Linked DNA regions of Homo sapiens: all the other regions are linked to region 1. Evidence: fine-mapped expression QTL. A gene starts in region 1. Each other region holds a variant in brackets. All regions are shown on one strand. Distances are between the middles of the regions.

Region 1 (6,541 bases):
TATATATATATTTTTTTAATTCGCTGGGCATGGTGGTGCGTGCCTGTAGTCCCAGCTACTTGGGAGGTTGAGGCAGGAGAATCACTTGAGCCTAGGAGTTCAAGGGTGCAGTGAATCACGATCACGCCATGATACTCCAGCCTCGGCGACAGAGTGAGAGACTGTCTCTTAAAAGGGTGGGGGGCAAGGCTGAGCGCAGTGGCTCACACCTGTAATACCAGCACTTTGGGAGGCCGAGGTGGGCAGATCACCTGAAGTCAGGAGTTCGAGACTAGGCTGGCCAATATGGTGAAACCCCATCTCTACTAAAAATACAAAAATTAGCCAGGTGTGGTGGCGTGTGCCTGTAGTCCCAGCTACTCGGGAGGCTGAGGCAGGAGAATCACTTGAAACTATGGAGATTACAGTGAGCCGAGATCGCGCCACTGCACTCCAGCATGGGTAACAGAGTGACACTGTGTCTCTAAATAAATAAATAAATAGGCCGGGTGCGGTGGCTCACGCCTATAATCCCAGCACTTTGGGAGGCCGAGACAGGCAGATCACAAGGTCAGGAGATCGAGACCATCCTGGCTAACATGGTGAAACCCCGTCTCTACTAAAAAATACAAAAAATTAGCTGGGCATAGTGGCGGGTGCCTGTAGTCCCAGCTACTCAGCTACTCGGGAGGCTGAGGCAGGAGAATGATGTGAACCTGGGAGGCGGAGCTTGCAGTGAGCCGAGATCGCACCACTGCACTCCAGCCTGGGCTACAGAGTGAGACTCCTTCTCAAAAATAAATAAATAAATAAATACATAAAGAGTCATCTACCTGCCCTGTCTCTGACTCCTTTCCTTCCCCCATCCCATCAGGCTTTTGCCCCAAACACCCTACCACAATGACACCCACGTGGCTAAATCCCATTGCCAACTCTCAGTATGCAACTTATTTGACCTAACAGCGTTGGACTGTTGATCCTTCCTTCTCTCTTGACAGGCATTTTTCACTTGGCATCCAGCACAGACAGCAGAACTTCTGCTTTTGCTCCCACCTCTTAATCGCCGTGTCCTTGAACACTGAAGGACCCAGGCTTAGTGCTCAGCCTCCTCACTCCCTCGTGATCCCATTCAGTCATGTGGCTTCAAATACCAACTAGACGCTGATGACTTTGTTTCCTCTCTTTACAGTCTCTTATTAACCCTCTCCTTCAACTACACGCCAACTCAACTGTGTATATATATAGCTATAGTTGTATGTATATACATATAGTTATATATATATACATGGTCATATATGTGTACCTAGACATATATACACATATATATACTTGAACTCCTGACCTCTGTTTACACTGTTTATACACATATATCTACATGTGTGTATATATATGTATGTGTATGGCCGGGCACGGTGGCTCACGCCTGTAATCCCAGCACTTTGGGAGGCCGAGGCGGGGAGATCACTTGAGGTCAGGAGTTTGAGACCAGCCTGGCTAACATGGTGAAACCCCATCTTTACTGAAAACACAAAAATTAGCTGGGTGTGCTGGCACCTGCCTGTAAACCCAGCTACTCGGGAGGCTGAGGCAGGAGAATCGTTTGAATACGAGGTGGAGGTTGCAGTGAGCCGAGATCGCGCCACTGCACTCCAGCCTGGACAACAGAGTGAGACTCCACCTCAAAAAGAAATATATATATATATATATATACACAATTTATTTATTTATTTATATAAAATAAATATATAAATATATTTACATAAATATGTATTTATATAAATATATAAAAATATATATGAATATATAAATATATAAGTATATATAAAAATATATATAAGTATATATAAATATATAAGTATATATAAATATATATAAATATATATAAGTATATATAAATATATAAGCATATATAAATATATATATAAAATATATATGTATATATAAATATATGTATAAATATATAAGTATATATAAATATATATAAATATAAGTATATATAAATTTATATAAATGTGTATATAAATATATATACATAAATATATATAAATATATACATAAATATATAAATATATATACATAAATATGTATAAATATACATAATTATAAATATATACACAAATATATAAATATATATAAACATATATAAATATATAAAATATATATAAATATATATAAACATATATAAATATATAAAATATATATAAATATATATAAACATATATAAATATATATAAACATAAATATATAAATATATAAACATATAAATATATATAAACATATATATAAATATATATAAATATATAAACATATATATAAATATATATAAACATATATATAAATATATATAAACATATATATAAATATATATAAACATATATAAACATATATAAATATATAAACATATATAAACATATAAATATATATAAACATATATAAATATATATAAACATATATATGAACATATATAAACATATATAAACATATAAACATAAACATATATAAACATATATAAACATATATAAATATATATAAATATATAAAAATAAATATATATATGCGGATGTGTGTATAAACTGTGTATATATATAACTATATATATAACCATATATATGTACTTATATATATCATCTACACATATATCATCTCAAGCTTAAGAATTCGTAATCAATACCCCTGATCACCCTCCACAAACCTGAGCTTCCTAGTGTTCATCCTCTCCATAAACATCCATCTGATGAGGTTCACATAGTAGCTCAAGCTTAAAACCTTGGTCCATCCATAAATCCTCTCTTTCTCACATACTCGTCCAACCCACCACAAACTCCTGTTGGTTTACCACTGAAATACACCCAGAATGTGACTCCCTTAAGATCCCATAGGTACCCAGTCCAAGCCACCACCTCTCACGATGGCTTTTAAACTCCTAAATCAGATGGTGTGTCACCTCCACTCAAAAAACTTCCCAAGCTGTCCCCTTCCACTTGGAGGGAAAGTCAAGGTCCTTGCCACTTGGTAAGGTCCACACGACTGCCCTGGCCCCTCCTCGCATCTCTGGGAACTCACCTCCTCTTTCTCTCTCTGTTCCCAAATTGGCTGCAGCCACACTGGGCTCCCTGCTGTTTCCCCTGCACCTGCTGTTTCCTCGACCTGGAATGTTCTGGTGCCTCACTCCTCCTCCTGCTTCCTTTCCATTCTCAAAACCCCTGTTCTCATCTTCTCCATGGCACTTACCATCACCTGCTCTGTGCACCTTGTTCATCTGTCTCTCCCCTCCAGAATGGAAGTTCACTAGATCACAGACTTGTCTCCACTTGTTGACAGCTGTAGCCCAATGCCCCGAACAGTGCAGGAGGAACCCAATGAACGTTTTTTAAAAATGAATGAATGAATGACGGAAGGAAGGAAACGGAAAGCATGCTTATGATGGAAAGTGAGGCCAAGCGCGTTGGCTCACTCCTGTAATCCCAGCACTTTGGGAGGCCGAGGCAGGAGGATCCATCGCTTGAGCCCAAGAATTCGAGACCAGCCTGGGTAACATGGTGAGACCCCATTTCTACAAAAAACATTTTTAAAAATTATCCGGGTGTGGTGGCGCGCGCATGTGGTCCCAGCTACTTGGGAGGATGAGGCGGGAGGACGGCTTGAGCCCAGGAGGTGGAGGCTGCAGTGAGCTATGATCACGCCATTGCACTCCAGCCTGGGTGGCACAGCGAGACACTGCCTCAAAAATTGAAAAAGAGAAAGTGGGAGCTGAAAGCCTCGGAGGGCAATCAGGGCGTCTTCAGAGAAAGACAATGAAACCAGAGCCACTGCAAGCCCTGACGGCCTGAAACCTAGGAGCCAGCTGAGTCCCTTCCACTCGCCCGCGCTGAGTTAACCCAGAGGCGGGTGCGGGTGTCGGAGCCCGCGCCGGGACGCACCGGCCGCACCGGCCGCACCAGCCTCCCCAGCACCGCGGACCCCAGGGCCGCCGCCCGGTCGCGCCGCGCCGGGCCTCCGCGCACCCACGTGGAGGGGGCGGAGCCCCGCGGGAGCCCGCCCCGGGGCTCTGGGTCTCCTGGCGCCCTGACCCGCCGGCCACCCCGCCGCCGCCCCACGCGCCTACCTGCGCCCACCTGCGCCCACGTCGCCCACCTAAGCGTGAACAGCTGCGTCGCGGACGCCGCCTTCCGGCAGGGACCCGCGCCCCAGGTAAGCGTTAGTCCCGCCTTCAGGAGTGCGGAGCCTCCCATTGGACGAGGTCTGCGTCCGTCTCTCCGCCGGCTAATGGCAAGCGGCGGCAGCACGGGGGGCGGTTCCAGGACCGGGCGCGGGCTACTGACGCCATCTCTAGAGGCCTAGAGTTGCTTGGAGAGGAGCTGGTTGCCAAGGCAACCCGCCCTGCCCAGAACAAGTGCAGATGACTAGGTTTGGGCCCCGCAGGGCTTGGGGGTCTGGGGTGCAAGCTGCCCCGGCCGGGCTGGCGTCCCGGGGTGGGGCCTCCGCCGAGGGTCCAGGGTATGGAGCTCGGCTCGGAGTCGAAATGGATGAGCTACGGCTATTGGGATCAACAGGGCTAGGACTTAAACTTCGTGCTGAATTTAAAAAATCAGGATAGGTGCTAAAAAATACACAGGGTGGGTAGTGTTATAATAATGCTTGTGTCCGGGAGCGGTGACTCACGCCTGTGATCCCAGCATTTTGGGAGGCCCAGGCGGGCGGATCGCTTGAGCTCAGGAGTTCGAGACCCGCCTGGCCAACATGACGAAACCCCGTAACCCCGTCTCTGCTAAAAATACAAAAATTAGCCAGGCGTGGTGGCAGGTGCCTGTAATCCCAGCTACTCGGGAGGCTGAGGCAGGAAAATCGTTTAAGCCCGGGAGGTGGAGGTTGCAGTGAGCCGAGATCGTGCCACTGCACTCCAGCCTGGGCGACAGAATGAGACTCTGTTTTAAAAAATAAAAAATAAATTAAAAAAATAAAAATTAGCCGGGTATGGTGGCACGTGCCTGTAGTTCCTGATACTCTGGACGCTGAGGTGGGAGGATCGCTGGAGCCTGGGAGATGGAGGCTGCAGTGAGCTATGATCAAGGCACTGCACTCCAGCCTGGGCAACAGAGCCAGACCCCGTCTAAAAAAAAAAAAGAAAAAAAAGCATGCTTTCAAGTCACCCAGTAAGTTAAGTGCTTGGCAGCCGTATCAAGTATGATGTACGTTGCCTCAGGAATCCAAAGGTGACAAGCAAAGAAGGTGCACTCTTCCTTACTGGTAGAAGATTGTATTTGGTTCCTTTTTCTGCATAACAAATTAACCCAACATTTAGCAGCCTAAAAGAACATTTATTTTTTCATGGTATCCGCGGTCAGGAAAGTGGGCGTGGCTAAGCTCTGTGCCTTTGCCTCAAGGGTTCACCAAGTTGTGGTCAAGGTGTCCCCCCAGGGTTGTGGTTTCATCGGAAAGCTTATCTGGAATGATCCACTCCCAAGCTCACACACACGGATATTGTAAGGACTCAGTCCTCCAAGGTCATTAGAGAAGGGCCTCAGCCTTGCTGGCTGCTGCCCAAAGGCCACCCTCAGTTCCTTGGTACATGGGCCTTACCACAAGGAAGCTCACAACACTGCAGCTGGCTTGCCTTAGACGGTGCAAGCACACACAAGAGGAGGCACACACAAGACGCACATCACAGTCTCCTTGCACCCTAATCTCAGAAGTGACTTCCCTAGGCTTTTGCCATATTCTGTTCATTAGAAGTCGGCCGGGTGCGGTGGCTCACACCTGTAATCCCAGCACTTTGGGAGGCTGAGGTGGATGGATCACTTGAAGTCAGGAGTTCAACACCAGCCTGGCCAACGTGGCAAAACTCCATCTCTACTAAAAATACAAAAATTAGCCAGGCATGGTGGCATGTACCTATAATCCCAGCTACTCAGGAGGCTGAGGCATCAGAACCTATTGAACCCGGGAGGCAGAGGTTGCAATGAGCTGAGACCGCGCCACTGCACTCCAGCCTGGGCGACAGAGCAAGACTCCAGCTCAAAAAAAAAAAAAAAAAAAAAGTGAATCATGGCCAGGTGCAGTGACTCAGGCCTGTAATCCCAGCTCTTTGGGAGGCTGAGTCAGGAGGATGGATGGACACCAGGAGTTCAAGACCAGCCTGGGCAAACAGTAAGACCTCATGTCTACAAAAATAAAAATAGAAAATTAGCTGGGTGTGGTGGTGCACGCATATAGTCCCAGCTACTTAGGAGGCTGAGGTGGAAGGATTGCTTGAGCCTGGAAGATGGAGGCTGCAGTGAACTATGATCACACCACTGCACTCCAGCCTGGGTGAAAAAAAAAAAGGAAAAAAGGAAAATAATTTTTTTTCATTTTTATTTTTGGAAATTGATATGGTTTGGCTGTGTCCCCACCCAAATCTCATCTTGAATTGTATCTCCCATAATTCCCATGCATTGTGGGAGGGACCTGGTGGGACATAATTGAATCATGGGGGCAGTTTCCCCCATACTGTTCTCTTGGTAGTGAGTAAGTCTCATGAGATCTGATGGTTTGATAAGGGGAAACCCCTTTTGCTTGGTTC
Region 2 (6,990 bases), 110 kb before region 1:
CACACACACACACCAGCAACGCGCCCAGACCCCAATCCCTGGCAGCCCAACTCCTCGTTCTACAGAGAAGGGGTGAGGATCTCCAGGGGTGACTGCTCACATCTCGGCACATGTAGAAGGCAGGGCTGGAGCAGCGGCCCCTGCAGCCCAGGCCAGGGGACTGGAGGCCCTTCCACAGCAGCCCTTTCCTTTTGATACACGGTCTTGCTCTGTGGCCCAGGCTGGACTGCAGCGGCACCATCACAGTTTACTGCAGCCTCGACCTCCTGGGCTCAAGCAATCCTCCCACCTCAGCCTCCCAAGCAACCAGGACTATAGGCATGTGCCACCATGCCTGGCCAGTTTTTAAATTTTTTATAGAGATAGGACCAAGGCTGCTCTCACACTCCTGAGCTAAAGTGATCCTCCTTGCCGGCCTCCCAAAGTGCTGGGATTATAGGCATGAGTTTTCAAACTCCTGGGCCACAGCGATCCTTCCGGCCAGCCTCAAAGTGCTGGGATTATAGGTGTGAGCCCACGGTGCACAGCCCCCACTTTCTTCCTAAAAACCCTGCAGCTTGGCTGACAGTGGGACCTGCCTCCCTACTCCCGCCTGCAGGAGCTCAGAAGCCTCAGCTCAAGAGGAGCCCTTGCCAGAGACGTGGGACCAGGAATGGGCCCCACAGAGCCCTGCCCGTGGGCTTCCTAAACAGCCTGAGTTCAGCTGCACACACCAACGATGTAGGCGGGTTGCAATAAACAGCAAGAAACGGACCCATGGGACAGGAGAGACGCAGGAGCCCCAGGGGACAAGAGAGACGCAGAAGCCCCAGGTGCCTTTGGTGGCCAGTGCTGAATTTCGCAAGCAACATTAGAAACTTTTTATTTCTGCTTTTCTCTTAACCCAAGGGTGAAAATGGAAACCTGTGGTGTGGGGCAGTCTGCTGAACGCTAGGATGAGGGCGGGGAACAAGAGCCACCCTCCCCGCTGCCACCTGGCCCACAAGAGCCTTCCCAGGGGCTCTCCAGTTTCAGCCCCTCCTTGCCGAGCCAGACAGCGCTGCTGGCCTGGACGGGAGGGACACCCAGGCTGACTGAGTGGGGGAGCACTTTTTATAAAGATCAGATCAGGTTTCTGAAAACAAAAAGCCCCCAGATCCTGCGAGCGGCTATTTAGACTTGATGCACACTCCACCATTTCACAGGTATCCATTCCCCAGCGTCACACATGCCCATCCCCAGCTGGAGCACACTCTTCAGTGTGGAGGACAGAAGGAGCAGGCAGAAGACGACCCCGGGGCGCTGGGGGAGCAGGTGCGGGCTCCCACATACCTGCTCTATTCTGGTTGGAGGTGTCACAAGGGAAGGCGTGGAGATGCTGCCAATGGGGACATGCGGCAAATGCGCCCCCTTCGCCCCACACCTGTCAGCAGCTAGCAACAACTCAGTCCTGACTGCTGGAGACCCAGCCCCAGGGGCAGGCAGGTTGGGATCCGCTGCTCAGGAGGCAGCTCTGGGCCAGGGTGGAGGCCGGAGAAGCCAGGCACCTCCCCGCAGAGCTCTGCAGAGGCCAGTCTGCTAACGGCTTCATCACTGGAGTGGCGGCTGCTAAGAGCAAAGCCTGTGCTTGGTACCTCAGGGACCTAAATAAGAACCACTCCCTGTTCCAAGGATCCCAAGTGGGGGGAGGACGAGAAGCAGCTGAGCCTATAGGGCACAGGAAACTCACTGGGGTGTGGGTGCTGGGGACTTGGGTTGGGTGCTGTACTGAGCAAGCCTGTTGTGGGGGGACACTGCTGGCGGTGGGTGACGAGGTGCACAAGTCAGGTCAGGGAGGGGGACTCTGCCCTGGCACCACTGGGGCACAGGACACTGGCTCAGGTGTCAGCTGAGGACCCCCCAGTGTAGGCGAGGGGCTCACAGCCGCTGAGGCCTGTGGACACAGCTCCGTGTATTCTGAGGTCGCAGAGCACAAGAGGTTGGGGGTGTGATACGGACCGACCTCGCCCATCCAGGAGGAATGGGGCTGGTAACAGAGCTTTGTAACCCCTCAGCACCGGTAGAGGTTGCGTGGCTCCCCAGTGGAGCTGAGGGCTGGCGTTTCTTGCTCTGTATTTCCCTGCGCTCTGGAAACTCCTGCATCACCAGCCTTGGGCCCTTCACTGCCTCCCCTGGGCCTCCAGAGGCAGGCTGGGGTCCTCTCCTTTCTCAGCCTCTGTGGCCAGTGTCTGGCACAGGACAGACACCCACCAGGACGCTGCCTGGGACGGAGGGCTCCCTTCTGCCTCCGGCCAGGTGGGCCCCGCAGCAGCTCAAGCTTCAGCTGCAGTGGAGGGAAGAGTGAACTGCTGGGCAGAAGCAGAAGCAGGCCTCCTGGAACTCGTGACCCCAGATCCCAGAGGCCCTGCCCCCTTGCCACCTCCCAGAATGTTGGCAGGGCCTCTGGGTGATTTTCATCCACATGCAGGGGTGTCACATAGGCCCCTCGGCTCCAGCTCCCCACTGAACGGCAGCTTTGTATCCACAGGTAGGGCTGGGCGGCTCCAATTTGAACTTAGGCATATGGACGCTGTCTAACGATTCACGACACTCCTCGTTTCTTTCGCTACTATTGGACCAGTTGAGGGTGGAGCCCAGCTGCACCTGGCATTGCTGAAGAGCCCTCGCAGAGCCAGCGCTCCAGCTGCTGGGCGCGCAACAGCTGTCCCGGGAGGCAAGGGTTCGCACGGCAGTGCTTCTGTGTCGACAGAGGCTGTGCTGCAGCTCCCTGCCAGGCCCGTGTCCTTCCTAGCTGTGAGAACACTAACCTGCCTGGGCTTCACCTGTGGAAGCCACCGCTAACTAGCAGTCGGAGGCGGCGTTGTTTCTAAGACAGGCAGGCAGCTCCGGCAGGAGCAGCCGCTAAGCACAAGGACGGCCAACCACACAAAGCCTGCTTCTCAACCACTCGCAGGAAATCGGCTCACAGTTGCTCCCCATTCTTCAATGCTGATCCTGCCACTTTACTGAAAATCACATTATTAACGTTTAAAAAACGTATGGGAACCATGCAAAGACATCCACGCCCCTCAGTTGCTGCCGCTCCAGCACCTGGCTCCGAAGTCTGTGCAGAAGGCGAGGCTCCCGTAGTGCTC[G/C]AGAGGGCCTTGCACGCTCCCCGTGGAGGGAACAAAGCTACGTGGATTTTCCAGCGCGCCGCCCACTTCACCAGGCAGCCTCTGGGCTTCATCCTGCTCGCGTGACAGGTGTGCTCTGTGCTGTCAGGAAACTGCAGGGCTTTGAGTATAAACTGAAAACAGCAAAACTATGTTCTCATCTCAGAGGCCCCTTCCTTCTCACCCCGAGGTCACCTGGGCCCGGAGACACAGCACCCGCCGTGCAGGAGCCTGGAAGATGTTTGAGCAACGAGAAAAAAACCAGAACATGTTACCGCCTCTAAAATGAGGAAATGGCAGGATCAAAATTAAATGTCCGTGAAGTGTATCATCATGTCAATTTTGTTAGTTGTTACACATAGTTTAAAACACTCACATCTGGGAACTAAGTACGGGTTAGGTTTTCTCACTTTGCCACAACTCCTCAGTGAACACAACGAATTCATAAAAATCACTGTCAATTCGGTGAGTTACTCATAAGCAAAGGACTCTGAAGCAACGGTCACCATTCCCGCCGTCTCTGCAGCCGTGAGGCCCAGCAGCAGGCTAGGCAGCCCGGTTCGCGTGTCCGTGCGGACGCCTGGTCCACGGCCCCCGGCTGTGCGCGCAGCAGCTGAGGACGCTCCGAGGACACAGCGCAGGACCAGCACGGGGCCGCCACCTGCCCGGGCCACCGCCTCCTCAGAAGATAAAAGACCTACTCCAAGCACCTCTGCGCTCTCCAACCCAAACCCGGCTGAGCCCCGACGCAGCAGCGGCAGAGCCTCTTGAAGGAGCTGCCGGCCTGCTCCGCCGTCCTCAGGAAGGCTCCCGAGTGAAGCTATCCCAATTGTTTTCATCATGAGTCTTTGCTTTAGTTGACACAGCTTCGCACTAGCACCCACCGCGCCAGTGGGGGCCGCCTTGCCTCAGGCAAGAAAGCCCCTGGCTTCCGAGCGCCCGACGGGGTCCTCTACCCCGGCACAGGGAGGGGCGAGGCGGCGCTGCGGGCGACACAGGCCCTCTCAAGGGTCACGCGGCGGCCGACGACTCCAGCCCACCCAGGGTCCTCAGAGCTCGTGTCTCCCCCGGGGGCTGCTGCATCGCGGCTGGGGGCCCGGTCCGCCCCCACAGCGCAGGGGAGCCTGGCCGGTTGCGGGGCCGCTCGAGGGCTCGCAGTGCCTGCAGGGCCTGGACCCCCACCCTGCCACCCGCGGCCCGGCCCTGCGCCCCCAGGAGAGTAAGTGGGAGGAGGGCGCGGGACCGTCCAGGGCCTGCTCGGGGACCGGCGCGCAGCGGAGCCCCGAGAAGCGCGGCTCGGCCGGCCCGGGGTCTGCAGGGCGGAGCGGGGCCCGCAGCAGCGTCTGGACGCCACGGCCTCCCACGGGAGCGCCCACCTGTCGCCGCGGGGCGGGGCTGGGGCAGGGCCCCTCCCATCCCCTCCCTGCAGCCCGAATGCGGGCCCTGGCCCCGCGCACTGACCTCTGACCCGGCTGTCAGGTCCCGCGGGCACGGACGGCGCCGGGGCAGGGATGCGCCCGCAGTGCGCACCGCCCGGCCCGCGCCTCCAGCAGCCTCAGCGCCTCCACACTGCGCATGCCCGGCCGGCCCGGCGCGGCTGGAACCAGATCCAGCCGGCTGGACCGTGACGCCAGCGCGCCTGCGGGGACTGGACCTCGGCGCGGGGGTGGGAGAGCCGGGGCGGGGCCTCGGCGCTGAGAAGGCGGGGGTGGACCCTGCTGCAGCCCCCACTGCTCCTCCGACGAGGCTCTCTGGCCGCCCGGGTCTCCGGTCCACCTGCGCGAACTGCGGGGAGGGCGCACCCCCGCCCGCGCAGGGCCCCTGCCAGCTGCACGTACTTGCCTCTGACCGCCCCCACCCAGCCCCTATCGTCCCCCTACTTCCCTCATCTCCCCCATCTGCCTCCATTATCCTCTCATCTCCCCCAATCTGCCCCCATAGACCCATCTCCCCCAGTCTGTCCCCATCTCCCCTAGTCTGCCGCCATCTGTCCCTATCGCTCCCCCAATCTGACTCCATGGCCCCCATCTCCTCCAGTCTACCCCCATCTTCCCAGTCTGCCATCTCCCCAATCTGCCCCATCTCTCCCCAGTCTGACTCCATGTCCCCCCATCTCCCCCAGTCTGCCCCCATCTCCCCTGCCCAGGCCCTGCAGGCAGAGGCCTAGCCCTCCCATGGCATCCACGTGTCCAGCAAAGGGGAGGTGCTCAATACCGGCTGGCTGAATACGTGGATGAGTCACGCAGCCTTTTCCTCACCACACAGAGGGCGTCTAGATCTCTTCTGGCTTGTGAGTTCCCTGCCCTGGGACTAAGACTGCAGATCAGTTTTTTTGCTTGTTTGTTTTTGGAGATAGGGTCTTGCTCTGTCGCCCAGGCCAGAGTGCAGTGGCACCATTGTAGCTCACTGCAGCCTTAACTTCCTGGGCTCAAGTGATTTTCCCACCTTGGCCTTCCGAGTAGCTGGGACCACAGGAGTGCACCACTGTGTCCAGCTAATTTTTAAATTTTTTGTAGAGACAGGGTCTCACTACGTTGCCCAGGCTGTTCACGAACTCCTGGGCCCAAGTGATCTTCCTGCCTCGGCCTCCCAAAGTACGGGGATTACAGGTGCGCCACCATGCCCAGCCTAATTTTTAATTTTTGGAGAGATGGGGTCTCACTATGTTGCCTGGCATAGGAGGCTGGAACTCCTGGACTCATGTGATTCTCCTGCCTTGGCCTCCTAAAGCACTGACTGGGATTACAAGCATGCACCACGGTGCCTGCCTTGCAGATCAATTTTATGGTGCGAGGGAGCCGCACTGGCCACCCAGAGCACAGTGAGCCCGGAGGCTGGGCCGGTTCCAGGGCGAGGAGAGGCTTAGACTCCCTCTCAAGGCGTCAGGGTCCAGGACACACTGAGCTCTGGTCGCGGGGCCCTGCTCTGGAGGCCACCCCTGCCTGGGGAGATGGTGTGGGCACCCCAGTCCCCCGCTGAATAAGGATCTGCAAGGCCGGAGTCAGGCCTGGGGCTGGCTGTTTTCCTCCTAGCTGTTTCACCATCTCCAGGCCTGTTCCCATGCAGAGGCCTGCTCTGTGGTGGCAGCGGGGCAGGCAAGGGTGGACTGGAGGCCTCCTGGAGCTGGTGGACACGAGGAGGCCAGGAAGGGATGTCCTGCCCACTGCCTGCAGCGGCTATGCAGCAGTGCTTCCGATTTAGTGTCTCTGCCACTGGTGTCCGCACCCCGCTTTCAGAGAAGGAAGTGTGTGCTCAGTCACCGGTTTCATGGGAGGGACTCAATTCTGGGCCTTCTGAGCCCCAGTGGCCTTGTGTGCTGACTCCCCAGTGTGTCCCCAGCATGAATGCGCCAGCCCACACAGTCACCTGCCTCCATGAACGCGCCAACTCCGCGCATCCACCTGTCTTCCCGAACGCAACGACCCACGCATCCACCCACCTCCATAAACGCGCCAATCCTGCTCATATGCCGTCTTCACCAACGCACCAACTCGCACAGCCACCCGCCTCCACACCTGAGCCCGGGGACCAGGTTTCTTCTCCCCGTAGTTCTGTGCTGGTGGCTCTGGGCTGCTTTGGGAGACAAGGACAAGAGCAGGAGCGGGAGAAGCTGGCCTGGCAGTGGGGTGCAGTCCCCCGGGCTGGGCCACTAGCCCCACAGGGATGGGGACGTGGTGCCGGCTGAGGACCCAGGGGCTTCACTCCACTCCATCTCACGCTTCCAGCTACCCTGCTCTTTGCACTTCACAGAGGGGGAACCAAGCCCAGCAAAGGTGGACACATACCAGCTGCTATGCCTTCCTAGGTCCTGCCCAGTGACCCACCTGTAGGGCTGTGCTGTCCCCAGACCCATGAAGGC
Region 3 (6,990 bases), 140 kb before region 1:
ATAGGGGCCACTGAGCACCCTGACTGCTGGGCTGAACACGGACCCTTCCCAGCAGCTTCTCTGCAAAGCTGTGCTGCCAGCAGCCGGATCGCAGGCACCGCCTGGCAGATCTGAAGGTTCGTGCTGTGCAACGTGCCTTCCTGTTTGTGAGTTCACCTGACCGACACCAGGAGGGGCTGGACTCCTCGCCTGCCGCCGGCAAGGCCCGCCCTGGGCCAGTGGGGTGCACACAGCAGGCCCTGTGTCGTGGGTGGTCAGAATTTTGGCCACAACAGTTGGGGGACGGGGCTGGATGCTGGCCAAGGAAGAGCAAACAGCCTCATCTCCTTCCCACAGCTTGGTGGGTGCAGAGAGGACCTGGGGACACGGTCCTTAGGGTCTCCTCCGGCCCCGAGTCTCGATGTCCACATAGAGATGGCCTGAGTGGTCAGCCAGACCTGCCCAGACCACATCTTAGCCCAGCCCTGGGTGTCTTCAGGGAGCTAAGGAGGAAGTCACAGTAGACGTCCGTGGGTCACAGTGAGGCCAGTCACCGCTCTGAGGTGCAGGCCCCGAGGGCCACGGCTGAGGAGGCCCAGCCAGGCCAGCAGTGGCCACGGGAAGCCCCAGGCCCTCCCCACAACAACAGCCCGGAGCCTGTGACTCTGCTCTCACAGGGTGAGGCCGGCCGTGCTCCCGCCTCCCGGCTTGCATGCAGCTCTGTGCGTTGGTGGCAGCCAAGGCAGGCAGCCTGACCTCAGCCTCAGGAGCTCTGTTGGGGGGCGGGGCACCCAAGGGGGCACTCAGGGCCTGAGCCAGCGTCCCAAGGCTGCCAGGTGGCGGCTGCAGCTACTTTTCTGCTCCACCGTCAGTTGGGGGAGCACTGAGACGGCAGCACAAACCCCCAACCTGGGCTGGGCAGGAGGCGGCCCCGGGGCAGCAGCACCTGGGTGTCTGCTCTGTGGAGGCCCAGACCGGAGCCACTGGCCTCAGCCCTCCCCGGGGCCCATCCTGGAACAGACTTGGCCTCACAGTGGGGCACGGACCTCCTCGCCATGGCCACCCGGCCCTCCCCGGCAGCTGCCCAGAGCTCTGCGGTCACCACGGCCTTCCCGGTGCCCCGCGGCACCTCACATCACTTGGGGGCAGGGACCACGTGCTGCTGGGAACAGGAAGTGTGTGGCTTGATTCTGTGCGGCCTAAGTGTGTTTCCTGGCAGGGTCAGTCACTGCCAGCGCTGGGAAACGGCCGGCCTGAACGCAAGCGATCAGCCAGCACCCACTGCCAGGAACGCCACACACAGAGCGCCCCCAATGCCATCCTGGGGTGGCCACCAAGGGCGGGGTCTCAGCCTGGCGTGCGCTGGCATGGGGGACACGAATTCCGCAGTCCACAGGCAGGGGACGCACCGCACAGAGCAGGACCCACGGCTGCTGCTGGGTCGGGTTTTATTTCAAATGCAGCCACAGAGGCGGTTTCTGCACAGGTACGTGATCCGACTCCACAAGCTCCCACCAGGGGCTCCCCATGACCCGCAATGACGCTGTGTGGGGTCAAAGGAAAACAGGCCACAGCCAGGCCCCTCGATGGACGCAGGCAGGGGACCAGGAATGCGGCCCACGCAGGGGGATCGGGAATCAGGCGGAAGGTGCAGGTTTGCAGCTGGCGGGAGGAGCCAGCATGCCCCAATCTCTAAAATATTCCCGGTAGAAAAATAGACATTTCCCTCCAAAGCAGATTCCTGGGGCTGGAGGGTCCCTCCAAGGCCAGGGGTCCGGGTGATTCCAGAGCATCCACGCTCTGCGCTGAAGGCACTGAACCTGCCATCACTGTCACAGCCGTCACCGGCCAAGGAGGGTCTGGAGGAGGGAAGGGGCCCTTGCGAGGCTCTGGTGCTGGTGATCCCGGCCCCCACCACCGGAGGAGCTGAAAGCCCTTGCTCAGCCGCTGCCCTGCTGGTGAACCCGGCCCCCACCGCCGGAGGAGCTGCACCCTGTGTGGTCTGAGGCAGCCCTGCACTGGGCAGCGGCCCCGCCCCGCGCTGAACCCACTAGGAGAGCAGCTGCAGCACCTGTCGGATGCGCTGGGCCCTCCCCGGCAGGGGGGGATCAGAGCCCTCCTCATCCAGCTCCCGCATCAGGGCTTCCGCCTTCTGCACCGTCAGCTCTCGGGCCCGGCCCTGCAGCCCCTCCAGGTAGGCCAGCAGGGTGGAGAAGTGCTCATCGGGAACCTGGACGGGAAAGAGATCGAGTTGGTCAGGGGCGGGGCAGGGAGGGGCCGCTGAACAGCAGGAGACAAGACGCTGCAGCCAAGGACACCCGGGCCTCAGGCTTCCGTCCTCCCACTGCGGCCCGAGGGTGTGGGCGGCCTGGCCACAGACCCTGCCCCAGACACTGGAAGAAGAAATGCCTGTTTAGAGGCAGACAAAACACTCAATTAACCTGGGTAAAACAGAAGCCATGTGGGGAGAACATTTCACAAACATCGTAAAAATCCTCAGAAAAACGAGAAAATACGACACAAATTAAACAGGGGTAGGCGGTGATGAAAGGTGCATTCAGAACAAAAAGCCAAGTACGCGCCGGCACTTGGCACGCTCGCCTTTCTGCTCAGGGCGGCAGTGGCCAGGTGGCATCTCTTGGTGGCCTGACCCTTGTCTGCTGGTGGTGGGGGCACCTCTGCACAGGCTCACCAGTCACCTGACAATCTGCTCTGCAGGCACGTTTCCTCAGGTCCCTGTGGCAGCGGCTTTCAACACTGGGCTCTTTTTATTATTGAGTTAGCAGAGTTCTAATTCCATGTGGGACTTGCAAACGTCTCCCATTCTGTAGCAACCATTTCACTTTCCAGCTAGTTCTGTATGCAGTGCAAAGTCTTAGATTCTTTTTTTTTTTTTTTTTTTTTTTGAGCCGGTCTTGCTCTGTTGTCCAGGCTGCAGTGCAGTGGCACGATCTCCACCTCCCAGGTTCAAGTAATTCTCCTGCCTCAGCCTCCCAAGTAGCTGGGATTATAGGCAAGCATTACCACACCTAGCTAATTTTTGTATTTTTAGTAGAGACGGGGTTTTTGCCATGTTGGCCAGGCTGGTCTCGAACTCTTGACCTCAAGTGATCCACCCGCCTCAGACTCCCAAAGTGCTGGGATTACAGGCGTGAGCCACCACGCCCGGCTACACAGTCTTAGATCCTGATGAAGGCACTTTCTCGACTTTTTCCTTTGTCGCTTGTGCTTCTAGAGTCACATTTAAGAAACTGTTGCCTCACCCAAGGGCACGAAATGGACTCTTAGGCTTTCATCTAAGAGTTTTGGTTTTAGCTTTTAAATTTAAGTCTCTGATCCATTTTGAGTTAATTTTTGCATATGGTTTGAAGCTGGGGGCTGCGTGCATTAAGTATCGGCATGTTCGTAAATATGTA[C/T]GGTTACATATGAAATAAAAATGTATAAGTAAAATGCACATTTGTGTGTTTGTAAATATGTTTAATTACAATAGTGTAAGATAACTTTGCGTGTGTGTGTGTGTGTATACACACATATAAATGGCTAACCAAGGATTTGCCTAACCAAGGATTATTTTTCTGTATAAAAAGTTTTGTATAAAGTTTACTTTTGGTAATAGTAACATATAAATAAAACCACGTAAACTTTGGTTAAAACAAAACAAAACGTGGAAACCCAGTTGTCCCTGGCTCTGTTAAGAAGAGGTTTCCTCCACATGGAACAGGCTTGGCCCGCATGCTGGAATCAGCTGCGCCGGGCGTGAGGGTTTCCAGGCTTCCCAGGCTGTTCCAGTCAATTCTACTTCCACCCTTGTGCCTGCCCCAGTGTCGCGATTACCGGAGCTTGCAATAGGGCTTACAATCGGCTTGCAATAGGGCTTGCAATGTGTATGTCCTCTAACTCTGAGGAGGGAGAGTGGCTTGAGCCCAGGAGGTCGAGGCTGCAGTGAACTGTGGTCGTGTCACTGCACTCCAGCCTGGGCGGGGCCCTGTCTCAAAAAACGCCCACAAAAAAACAAAAACAACAAAATAATGAAAGCAAGTGGCTGCAGGCTATGCCTGGAATGTCCCAGGGCTGTGAGTGGGGCTGGTGGGCCTGCCCCGCTCTGAGAGTCTGCAAACACAGGCACGGCAGGAGAAAACCGCCCCCTGCCCCCAGCGCGCACGCAAAGCCTGGCCTCTAGTAACGTGGGCGCAGGAGAGCCAGCGAGGCAGGAGGCACTGCCCACCGGATGCAGCTCAGCAGAACCGTGGGCTCCTCCAGCCTCACAGGACATGGGCAGCTCCAGCCCGCCGCCCAGCAGCCGGGTTTAGTTCAGAATTCTGTCTCGTTTCATCCTGTGAAACTCTATCTCACATCCTGCCCCTGAAAAGGGCAGCTGCCCACACGTACATGTGTAGACACACATCACGCGCACACACGTGTAGACACACGTCATGCACACACGCACGTGTAGACACACGTCACACGCACACGTGCAGGTGGCCTCCCTAAGGTTACCCCGTGTTGGTTTCTGCCCTGAAGGCCGGCGGCAGGGCTCCTGGAGGAGGCAACGCTGCTCATCTCTTAGAACAAAGGCACCGGGAGACCTGCCCTGCAGTGGGGCCCTGAGGGCGGCCCCTTCAGACTGTGGCTTCTGCTGTCAGGGCCCCAGTGTGCACAGGAGACGTGCCTGCCCCGCCGTGCACAGACCTCAGCCCCCAGGAGACGTGCCTGCCCCGCCGTGCACAGACCTCAGCCCCCGGGAGACGTGCCTGCCCCGCCGTGCACACACCTCAGCCCCCGGGAGACGTGCCTGCCCCGCCGTGCACACACCTCAGCCCCCGGGGGGACGTGCCTGCCCCGCCGTGCACAGACCTCAGCCCCCAGGAGACGTGCCTGCCCCGCCGTGCACACACCTTGTCACTGTCATACATGTGCAGCAGGAGCCACGTCTGCCTCGTCTTCTGAAACCTCCAGTTCTTGTGCTTTTGGGCCCATCTAGGGAAAGAAAGACAAACATCTCAGGGTGCTGGGCAAAAGACTCCCGGGCAGCTGTCTGCCCTGAGAGATCGGGGACGCCTCATCTTAGGAGAGGGAGCCCCACCAGGTACTACACACCAAGGCCTCATGTGAAGAGGGTTTTTGGAGCCCCTCCCCTGCCCGAGGCGAGGAGCCGCAACCCCACGCCCTGCTGCCGCCTGACCAGGAAGCATGTGGACGCCACTCTTACCTTGGCCACCCCGGGGCTCACCACTGACCCCAAGTCCCCGTGGGCTCCCCCACCCCATGGGTCACACGGATTTTACAGGGGGGGAAGGATGAAGTGAGTTTCTCTGGGAGGAAAGGGAGCGATGTAATTGATGATGTATTTTCTACATGAAAATGGGAAGACTGTAAGGAACAATACCCTGAGTCCCAGGCCCTCACAACAAGGGGCCAGTGGGCCTGGGGACGAGCAGCTCCCGGCTGCTAGAGGGGCCGCTCCCCAGGGCCACAACCACCCCGCCCCCGTCCCGCTCCTGCACTAGGGCCTGTGGACATCAGGCAGCTGCGGATGGAGCGAAGCTGGCGCTGTGGGTAGGGCAGGGCCAGGCAGGGTTTACTCCAGAGACCTCCTCCCAGATACGTGTTTCCAGGGCCAGGCAGGGCAGCCGAGCCCAGAAGCCTCCATCAGTGTGCAAGCCCAGGTCTGAAGACTGTAGGCTCAGCACGGGGGAGGGCCCTGTGCCTGTTGTGAGCGCTGCCCAGCTTGCCTGACCCCACTGCCATGTGGGTGAGTGGAGTCCTGTGGGTGTGGAGCCCTGTGGGTGGGGAGTCCTGTGGGTGAGTGGAGTCCTGTGGGTGGGGAGTCCTGTGGGTGAGTGGAGTCCTGTGGGTGGGGATTCCTGTGGGTGAGTGGAGTCCTGTGGGTGGGGAGTCCTGTGGGTGAGTGGAGTCCTGCGGGTGAGTGGAGTCCTGTGGGTGAGTGGAATCCTGTGGGTGGGGAGTCCTGTGGGTGAGTGGAGCCCTGTGGGTGGGGAGTCCTGTGGGTGAGTGGAGTCCTGCGGGTGGGGGGTCCTGCCGGTGGGGAGTCCTGCGGGTGGGGAGTCCTGTGGGTGAGTGGAGTCCTGTGGGTGAGTGGAGTCCTGCGGGTGGGGAGTCCTGCGGGTGGGGAGTCCTGTGGGTTAGTGGAGTCCTGTGGGTGGGGAGTCCTGTGGGTGAGTGGAGTCCTGCGGGTGAGTGGAGTCCTGTGGGTGGGGAGTCCTGTGGGTAGGGAGTCCTGTGGGTGTGGAGCCCTGTGGGTGGGGAGTCCTGTGGGTGAGTGGAGTCCTGTGGGTGGGGAGTCCTGTGGGTGAGTGGAGTCCTGTGGGTGGGGAGTCCTGCGGGTGGGGAGTCCTGCGGGTGGGGAGTCCTGTGGGTGAGTGGAGTCCTGTGGGTGAGTGGAGTCCTGTGGGTGGGGAGTCCTGTGGGTGAGTGGAGTCCTGTGGGTGGGGAGTCCTGTGGGTTAGTGGAGTCCTGCGGGTGGGGAGTCCTGTGGGTGGGGAGTCCTCTGGGTGAGTGGAGTCCTGTGGGTGGGAAGTCCTGTGGGTGAGTGGAGCCCTGTGGGTGAGTGGAGTCCTGTGGGTGAGTGGAGTCCTGCAGGTGGGGAGTCCTGTGGGTGGGGAGTCCTGTGGGTGAGTGGAGTCCTGCGGGTGAGTGGAGTCCTGCGGGTGAGTGGAGTCCTGTGGGTGAGTGGAGCCCTGTGGGTGAGTGGAATCCTGTGGGTGGGGAGTCCTGTGGGTAGGGAATCCTGTGGGTGTGGAGCCCTGTGGGTGGGGAGTCCTGTGGGTGAATGGAGTCCTGTGGGTGGGGAGTCCTGTGGGTGAGTGGAGTCCTGCCGGTGGGGAGTCCTGTGGGTGGGGAGTCCTGTGGGTGAGTGGAGTCCTGTGGGTGAGTGGAGTCCTGTGGGTGGGGAGTCCTGTGGGTGAGTGGAGTCCTGTGGGTGGGGAGTCCTGTGGGTGAGTGGAGCCCTGTGGGTGAGTGGAGTCCTGCGGGTGAGTGGAGCCCTGCGGG

The links.
Region 2: its variant is fine-mapped to the expression of CHLSN in whole blood (TOPMed, PIP above 0.99).
Region 3: its variant is fine-mapped to the expression of CHLSN in whole blood (TOPMed, PIP above 0.99).

Annotation. Positions count from the first base shown.
Region 1 is chr7:1,134,105-1,140,645 of GRCh38, forward strand. CHLSN (cholesin) reads right to left here and starts at 4,143. Exons shown (of 5, transcript NM_001318252.2): 1 at 3,211-4,143. RefSeq lists silencers at 3,703-3,752, 3,763-4,212, 4,413-4,552 and an enhancer at 4,273-4,372.
Region 2 is chr7:1,023,666-1,030,655 of GRCh38, forward strand. All of the region lies in intron 2 of CHLSN (cholesin), which reads right to left. Among named protein-coding and RNA genes, the nearest start is that of MIR339, 4.1 kb to the left of the region's middle. RefSeq lists enhancers at 1-29, 3,880-4,614, 4,615-5,348 and silencers at 4,092-4,301, 4,332-5,111. The variant G/C (reference allele first, on the strand shown) is at 3,114.
Region 3 is chr7:995,596-1,002,585 of GRCh38, forward strand. CHLSN (cholesin) reads right to left here. Exons shown (of 5, transcript NM_001318252.2): 4 at 4,875-4,956; 5 at 1,411-2,209. The coding sequence ends at 2,030. Among named protein-coding and RNA genes, the nearest start is that of CYP2W1, 16 kb to the left of the region's middle. RefSeq lists enhancers at 97-146, 1,643-2,183, 3,640-4,229. The variant C/T (reference allele first, on the strand shown) is at 3,396.